2 separate regions of the Homo sapiens genome follow, and region 2 is linked to region 1. The links come from fine-mapping of genetic effects on gene expression. A gene starts in region 1. The other region holds a variant in brackets. All regions are shown on one strand. Distances are from middle to middle.

Region 1 (4,389 bases):
CTATTCCAGCGTGCCTCCTCACTCAGGGCAAGGACCATATTTGAGTTACTAATAAGGAGACTAAGGCTGAGAGCTGACTTGAGCAAGATCACAAGAGCCCTATCCCTATCCAAAAAAAAATTTTTTTTTTTTTTGAGACAGGGTCTCCCTCTGTCACCCAGGCTGCAGGGCTGGAGTGCAGTGGCGTGATCATAGCTCACAACTCACTGTTGCCTCCACCTCTTGGGTTCAAGTGATCCTCCTACCTCAGCCTCCCAAAGTGCTGAGATTACAGGTATGAGCCACCATGCCTGTCCAATTTTTAAAAAACACTCCTAAGAGAATCCCCACAATGAGAGACCAACCAGGGCAAGGTCACCCAAGAGTCCCAGAGAGAATCCAGGTTTTCCGACCACCAACCCAGCCGCCTGTCCAGTACATGATGATGCTACTGCAGCTGGAGAGAAAGGAGGAGGAAGGAAGGAGGAGACCCTCAGCTTCAGGTCACTTTCCCTATTACCTGGCTGCCATTCAGGGTCTCTAGTAACAAGGCCAGGTCCCCAAGACGGTCAGCACTCAACCAGAGGGCAGCCTGCAGGCCAACCAGGCGGTGCAGGGCAGACAGCAGCTCCGGCAGAAGGCAGGAAGCACGAAGGACAGAGTCCCACAGCTCCCTGAGCCCCTGTTCCAACCTGGGCCCCTGCTGCTCCTGTGTCTCCAGCACTGTAGAGTATACACACACACATAGACACACACACAGCTGAAGTAGCACCTCATCCTCCATCTCCCCACACACTCTGGCTTTCCTCTCCTGCAGGACCCCAAAGGTCACAATAATAATACCTCAACCTGGTCTGAAGAGCACAGAGAAGGGCACCTCTCTCCATGGAGGTGACAGATGTTGTTTATCCTCCCATCTCCCTGCAATAACTTAAACCCAGACTGAAGATGGCAGGGGAATCAGGGACAATCTCTGGCCCTCACCTCTCTCTAGGCTCCGCTGGATATCCTGGGCCTGATCCTCTGTGAAACCCTGGGCCAAGCTTGCCCTCAGGATAATGAAGTTGCAGGTGACAGTCAGCTCCAAGGGAAGAACAGGAACAGCTGCAGGGAGCCCTGGAGCAACAATGTTGGTCTTACAGACTGCTCCCCCATGGAAGATCCTCCAAATAAAATCCCAACTCAGAGATCACCCCACTCCAACCAAAACAGCTACAATAAAGAACCCACCCTCCAGCCAATTAGCTAAGGATTTAAAAAAAGAACCCAACCTTTGGACAGAGAGTCTGGAAAGGGCAAAAAAGTTATCCAGATCAGACCATCTTGGAAACCATTTTTCAAATGCCACTCTGTGAGTGTGTAAGGAAGAGAGGGATTTGCCTGTACAAAGATGATTCCACTCCAGTCTCCTCTGTGCCTTAAACAGGACTCCCTGCCCCGAGTAATTATATCGATCCCAAAAACGCAGGAGCGGATGTTTCTCTGGCTATGGAAGAGGGGAACTGACCATCCTGGGGAGGACCCGCCTACCTTGCAGACTATGGAGGAGCCCTCTGAGCCCTTCCAGTGCATCCTGAGCCAACTGCTGTCGCCTCAGAGTCAGACCGGAGTTCTGAGCCACCTGCCACATGAGGGAGGGGTTGTCACTGAGGATCAATCCTTTTTTCTCCCCTTGCAGCAGTGGCAAGGGATGCATTCTCCAGTCATTTCTGGCTCTTTGGTCAAGCTCAGTCCCTCCCCATCGGTTGGGGTAAATCCACTGCAAACCCGCTTTCAGGGATCTTGAGGCTGCAAACCGAGGGTGCCAGCAACCGTGTTACCTTGGCCTGTCGAACGAGCCGGTCATTCTTTTCCCTCCACAGGTCCAGGCAGCTGGAGCCCACAGAGGTGGTCTGGCGGGACATGGTGGCCGAGGCTGGGCCCGGAGACCAGAAGCGGACTTAGGAAGGGTGAAGCTGGCCTGCCCAAGCTCCCAACCCCAGCGGGGAGGGGCCTGGGCACTTCTGCACCCCGCCGAGCTCCCCTGCTTCTCTCGGGGTCCCAATCCACCCGCCCAGGCTTTCCAGGACAGATGGGACGCTCTCTCCCCGCGGCCCGCCGGGCTCTCAACCTCGCCTCTGGTTGGCCGGGTCTGCGAAGCTCTGGGCTGCGGTTGGTCCTCTTGAAGAGTTAGTTCCCGCGGGAAACTCGGGGAGGAAACGAGTCAGCAACCCCAAACAGGCTTAGGCGGGCTAGAAGCCGGGGTCGTGTCTGACTGGGGCAGTCGCACGGCCGGCGGTGCGGCCCGCTCGGCTCTCGCGGAGGCCACAGCCTCGAGAAAGGGTGGGCGGGAGCGAGTTTCGGCCCCACAGTCCGTGGCTCGGCCCTTCCTCGCTGCCACACCCCCAGGTCCTCCTGGGTTCCCGCTTCCACCGAGGGCCGACTGCGAGGTGCATGCTGGGAGTCGTAGTACCGCACCGGGGCGGAACAGCTCCGCCCCGGCGGATGGTGTTTCCAGAAAGCGGTAACTGGAGACGAGGGCGCTCCGTAATCGTCCATCCTTTCTCTGCTCACTGTCGAGCACCAACACGCTCACCAAGGTCGGCTTTCTACCGCGTGTAGTCTGCTGGCAGTGCCGCTCTGTACTTGCACTGCTCAAAAGTACCTGCCCAATCATTTCAAATTAAATGGAGCTAGGAGAATTGAATATCCATATGCAAAAAAAAAAAAAAAAAAAGACAGGAAAGAAAAGAACGCGACCATACATACGTACATAAAATCAACTCAATGGATCACAAACTAAATATAAGAGCCAAAAATATAAAACTTCTAAAAGAAAACGTAAAGCAGCCTAACTAACATGGTGAAACCTTCTCTACAAAAATACAAAAATTAGCAGGGCGTGGTGTCGTGCGCCTGTAATCCCAGCTACCCCGGAGGCTGAGGCGGAAGAATCGCTTGAACCCGGGTGGCGGAGGTTGCAGTGAGCCGACATCGTGCCATTGCACTCCAGCCTGGGTGACAGAGTGAGACTCCGTCTCAAAAAAAAAAAAAAAAGAAAACGTAAGAGAACAGCTTTATGACCTTGGGTTTGGCAACAAGTTGTTAGACACAGCACTAAAAGCTTGTACAATTTAAAAAAAAGTTAACTTTATTAAAATTAAAAACTCTTGTACTACAAAGACATCATTAAGAAGTCATACGCTGGGGCCGGGCGCCGTGGCTCACGCCTGTGATCCCAGCACTTTGGGAGACCGAGGCGGGCGGATCACGAGGTCAGGAGATCGAGACCATCATGGCTAACACGGTGAAACCCCGTCTCTACTAAAAATACAAAAAATTAGCCGGGCGATGTGGCGGGCGCCTGTAGTCCCAGCTACTCGGGAGGCTGAGGCAGGAGAAAGGCGTGAACCCCGCGGGCCAGAGCCTGCAGTGAGCCGAGATCGCCCCACTGCACTCCAGCCTGCGCAACAGCGAGACTCCATCTCAAAAAAAAAAGAAAAGAAAAGAAAAGAAAAGAAGAAAAATCATAGGCTGGATGTGGCTCATGCTGTAATCCCAGCACTTTGGGAGGCTGAGGCTGGAGGATTCCCTGAAGCCAGGAGTTCAAGACCAGCCTAGGCAACAAAGATGGTGTCTTTTGTAGAGACATTATCTCTACAAAAAATTTAAAACATTAACCCTGGCACAATAACACACCTGTAGACCCAGCTACTTGGGAGGCTGAGGTGGGAGGAGCCCTTGAGCCTAGGAGTTCCAGGTTGCAGTGAGCCATGATCACACCACTGCCCTCCAGCCTGAGTAACAGAGTGAGACCCTGCCTCAAAAAAAGAAAGGTCACAGTCACAGAGTGGGAGAAACTACTTGCTAATTATATACCTCATAAGGGACTGGTATCCCTAACACATAAAAACTCCCAAAACTCAAGAAAAAGATTTTTAAAAACAATCTTAGCTGGGTGTGGTGGTTCATGCCTGTTATCCCAGCACTTTGGGAGGCTGAGGTGGGAGGATCATTTGAGCCTCAGAAGTTTAAGACCTGCCTGGGCAACATAGCAAAACCCCACCTCTACAAAAAAAATACAAAAATTAGCTGGGCATGGTGGCACACACCTGTAGTCCCATCTACTCGGGAAACTTAGGTGGGAGGATCACCTGAGCTCAGGGATGTCGAAGCTGCAGTGAGCCATGATTGAGCCACTGCACTCCAGCGTGGGCAACAAAGTGAGACCCTGTCTCAAAACAAAACAAAAAACAATTTTAAGATGGACCAAAAAAAAAAAAAAAGACATTTTACCAAAAAAGATCTACTAATGGCTAAGAAACACATAAAAAGATGCTCGGCATTATTAGCTATTAGAGAAACACAGTTAAAAACATGGCCAGGGCCGGGCCATGTTATGCCTGTAATCCCAGCACTTTGGGAGGCTGA
Region 2 (4,389 bases), 110 kb before region 1:
TGGACAGCTGAGAGCCTCTTCCCGTGCAGGGTCTGCACCAGGGTTTTCCATGATGGCTGCCTGCGCCGCATGGGCTACATCCAAGGAGACAGTGCAGCGGAGGTGACGGAGATGGCCCACACAGAAACAGGCTGGAGCTGCCACTACTGTGTAAGTCTGGACTGCAGGGACAGCAGAGGACTTGGCACTTTTCCTGGAGGCCCGGTCTTAGAACACTTGATTTTAGGCAGTGACCTAAAGAATTTTCCAATGGGCTGGGCGCGGTGGCTCATGCCTGTAATCCCAGCACTTTGGGAGGCCAGTGCCGGAAGATCACGAGGTCAAGAGATTGAGACCATCCTGGCCAACATGGTGAAACCCCATCTCTACTAAAAATACAAAAATTAGCTGGGCGTGGTGGCACGCGCCTGTAGTCCCAGCTACTCGGGAGGCTGAGGTAGGAGAATCACTTAAACCCAGGAGGCGGAGGTTGCAGCGAGCCGAAATCGCGCCACTGCACTCCAGCCTGGCGACAGAGCGAGACTCTGTCTCGAAAAAAAAAAAAAAAAAAAGATTTTTCCAATGGTACATACAAGAGACCTAGAGCTAGGATGGGGTTTCTCAACCTCAGTACATTTTAGGCTGGCTAGTTACTTGTTTGAGGGGCCAAGTGCATTGTAGGATGTTTAGCGGCACCCTGGCCTTAATCCCCTAGATGCCGGTAGCATACATCTCAATGTGAAGGTAGCAAAATCACCCCCGGTAGAGAACCTCTGAGCTAGGAGATTGACTGGGGCCTAATTACTCAAAAGTAATTCTGCTTGGAGCAGTTCTTTCTCTAATAGTCTATAGTTGTCATTCATTGTATCCATATGAAAACTAACCTGAGATCCTAACCAGCTTGCTTCCAGTAGGGGTAGATTCTATCACAGGAAAACTTCCTAGGCCTGAGATCCTCACTCAGCCTGCCACCTGACTCATAAGCATTTGCTCTTCCTCTTTGAAGTGGTTATTATGTGAATTAAATGACAAAGCTCTATTGATTCAGAACTTCGCAAATTATATATAAATGCCTTCTAACTTTTAATGAAGGACAGAGTCTAAGGTTTCCATTGAAAGCCAGATTTATATCCATTTCTCACTACACCTGAATAGAGTTCAAGTCTTGCCTTATTGATCTGTTGTCCTGCAGATATCGTCATTGTTTATTGATTTCAGAGTGAGGAGCACCTGCTGATCCCCCCTTCTTCCTGCTGCTTAGACGAAAGCAGAGATGTGCCACTTTCTAACAAATAACTCTTCCTCTATGGCTTGTTATGGAACAGCTATTTTCAGCCACTGAAACACCTGTCCCCATGGAGTACACTGCAGCAGACCCTGCTGTACCGGCGACCTTCTCTAGTGCCTGTCACCCCTTCCAAATGCCATCCTTTCATCTCGGCCACTCTGCTTTGCGGTGTGCTGCTGCTATAGGACTGGGGTGAAGGGGTCACCTCCCTAACCCCCAGGAACACACTGCTCCCTCCCCAGCTTCCTGACACAGTCCTACCATCATTGCCACCATGCTCCACTGGGCTTTTTACAGAGCCTCCTTCCAAGTACCTCTCCTTTCTTTCCTTCCCTTCACAGCCAACAAATCTTCTTCTTCTTTTTTTTCTTTTTATGAGACAGGGTCTCACTGTGTCACCTGGCTGAAGTGCAGTGGTGCGATCGTAGCACTGCAGCCTTGAACTCCTAGACCTAAGCAATCCTCCTGCCTCAGCTTCCTCAGTAGCTGGGACTACAGGCACAAGCCATTGCACCTGGCCCCACAGCCAAACTTCTTAAAAGAATTTCACCATCTCCTATGGTTTTTCAACCACCTATCATATAATCTGACATCTGCATCCATCATTCTGCAGAACTGTTGCTTCCTAAGGTCACCAGTCACCTCCTAATTGTCAAGTCCACTGACCTTTTCTGAGGCATCTTCTTACTTGATCTCTCTGAAGTATTTATTACTTCTTTATTCCTCTCTCTTTTCTTTAGGATTTAAGTATTTTTATGAGAATTATTGCATAAGATATGGAAATGAGAGAAAATAGAAAGTCAATAAAATCCCACCTCAGTGGTGTAACCACCGTTAACATTACCTCCCACATTCTGCAGCTGTCTTTGCTTGGTATCCAGTACCTTCTTCTCTACTGATGCTCTTCCAGCCTTAGTCTCTGACCATTCTTTCTCAATGCCCTTTGTTAGTTTCTTGTCTCAGTCCTGTTTCTCAGGGTTCTGTTGTTTAATACTCTTCTTTTCTCACTGCGCCCTCTTTGGTGACTTCATCTACAGCCACCATCTAAACACTAATGACTCCTATTTCTGTGTGTCCAGACCTAAATTTCCTGTCTCTTGCACTTATCCACCTTGATATCTCACAAGTACTTCACACTCATCATGCCCCAAAATGAACTCATCTTTGCCCCCAAACCTGCTCTTCCTCCACTCCTTATCTCTGTGAATAGTAATACCATGCCCCAGTTACCAATTCCAGTTCAATCTCTCCCTCATGCCTCACATCCAGTGAGTCATCAGGTCCTGATGATGCTGCCTCTAATATCTCTCTTCCCTTCTTCATTCTCA[T/C]GTCTCAGTTTAGCTGCTCATCATTTCTTGCCTGGACTGTTGCGGCAGCCCCCAACTGCTCTCCACACCTCCAGACTCTGCCGCTCTAATCCATCTTCCACACAGCAGCCAGAGATCTGACCACGGCACTCCCCACTTGAAAACCCTTTGGTGGCTCCCTTTTGCCCTCAGAATAAAGGCCTAATTTGAGGGGCTCGATAAAGGGTATTGGAGGTACTTCATAGTAGGCCCCCTCCTTCCCTCACACACACACTCACATGTACTCCAAACCTCAGCCACACTGAACATCTCACAGTGTTACACACCACTGTGGCGCCCAGTGTTTACTAGGTGCTCAGTAGGTGTTTATTGAAAGTATGGTTTGAAAGAAAAATACAACTATTATATATTAGTTTTTAAAAAGTGTTATGGAAGAAAAAGAATGGTTTGAGTTCTTTATGAAATCCACGTATGAATACTCATGAAATATCTGCTCTTGTACTTTGCGGGTATCTCAGAGGAAGAAAATGACCTTGTACTAGAAAGGATCTTTGATAGTTTAAAGACTGTATGGTAACGTCAACACAATAAGATATTGGTGCTCCTTTGGAATTAAAACTTCTGTGGCACTACAAAAAAACTCATTTGGCTTTAGGAGCCTTGTAATAATGGCATCTTTTAAAACCATTCTGGGGTTATTTAAAGTGATACAACCCACTTGGAGCAGAGCTAGGATTAAACTTTTTTTTTTTTTAACTAAAATACATTTTTAGCACAGCCTAACACAGAAGCCAAGTAGATAAAAGGGATGGAGATGGAGCCGCTCTGCTTGATGGAGATAGGGATTCACAACCTGCCTACTCACTAGCCCCCTTATTCCCTGCAGCAGCTTCCTAAGGCACTTCCAAGAAATCCCTAGGTTAGCTCAGAGGAGAAAACCACTGTTTTAGTAAAGGGACTCAGTGCTGGAGTCAGGATATCTGGGTTCTTGGGGAAGATTCTGCCCCAGAGTAAAGACAACTCTGGCCAAGTCCTTTCTCCTCTCTGGGGCCTCAATCTCATTGATTGTGAATAGGAGGCTGGGATTAGATGATCTTGGAACTGCTTTCCAGTTGAAATTCTATTTCTAGCCCCCTTGACCCTGGCCTTTCTTACTGGCCTGTATGGCCACCGACTCAGCTCTTCCTTATTTTCAGGACAACATCAACTTGCTGCTTACTGAGGAGGAAATGTATAGCCTCACGGAGACCTTTCAGCGGTGTAAAGTCATCCCTGGTAAGGTTGGGTGGTGCTGCATGGATGGAGAGGGGCCGGGCAGATTTCTCCTTCAGGCTTTCTAGAATGAACCATGAAAGGAGTGTTCCATATTTAGTGGGTAGAGGGTAAATGAGTCCTTGTTCCTGAGTTGTTGGCCAGCAGAGTCACCTATCCCTGTCACAGCCTGGGTGACCCTGGCCATGGGAGGCAGAGACTTAGCAAGAGCTGTGGGTTTGGGGGCCCCGAGGGTGCCCTGGAGGTGATGGAGGTGCCCTGAGGCTGAGGAAGGATGGGCATGGCTAGCACGGGGTGCCTCCCACAGATTGCTCCCTGACACTGGAGGACTTTCTGCGTTACCGCCACCAAGCAGCCAAGCGGGGGGACCGTGACAGGGCCCTGAGTGAGGAGCAAGAAGAGCAGGCGGCCCGCCAGTTTGCTGCCCTGGACCCTGAACATCGAGGCCACATAGAGTGGCCTGACTTCTTGTCCCATGAGTCCCTCCTGCTTCTGCAGCAGTTGCGTCCCCAGGTGAGGGCCAGTTGGGGCAAATGTTCCTGG

What was found. PIP is the estimated chance that this variant, and not a neighbour inherited with it, causes the effect.
Region 2: its variant is fine-mapped to the expression of FANCG in whole blood (TOPMed, PIP above 0.99).

What each region holds. Positions count from the first base shown.
Region 1 is chr9:35,077,642-35,082,030 of GRCh38, forward strand. FANCG (FA complementation group G) reads right to left here and starts at 2,301. Exons shown (of 14, transcript NM_004629.2): 1 at 1,800-2,301; 2 at 1,510-1,600; 3 at 964-1,095; 4 at 500-702. The coding sequence starts at 1,883. RefSeq lists enhancers at 1,323-1,930, 3,147-3,753 and a silencer at 2,006-2,171.
Region 2 is chr9:34,972,382-34,976,770 of GRCh38, forward strand. PHF24 (PHD finger protein 24) reads left to right here. Exons shown (of 8, transcript NM_015297.3): 3 at 1-150; 4 at 3,771-3,849; 5 at 4,154-4,359. Among named protein-coding and RNA genes, the nearest start is that of DNAJB5-DT, 15 kb to the right of the region's middle. The variant T/C (reference allele first, on the strand shown) is at 2,596.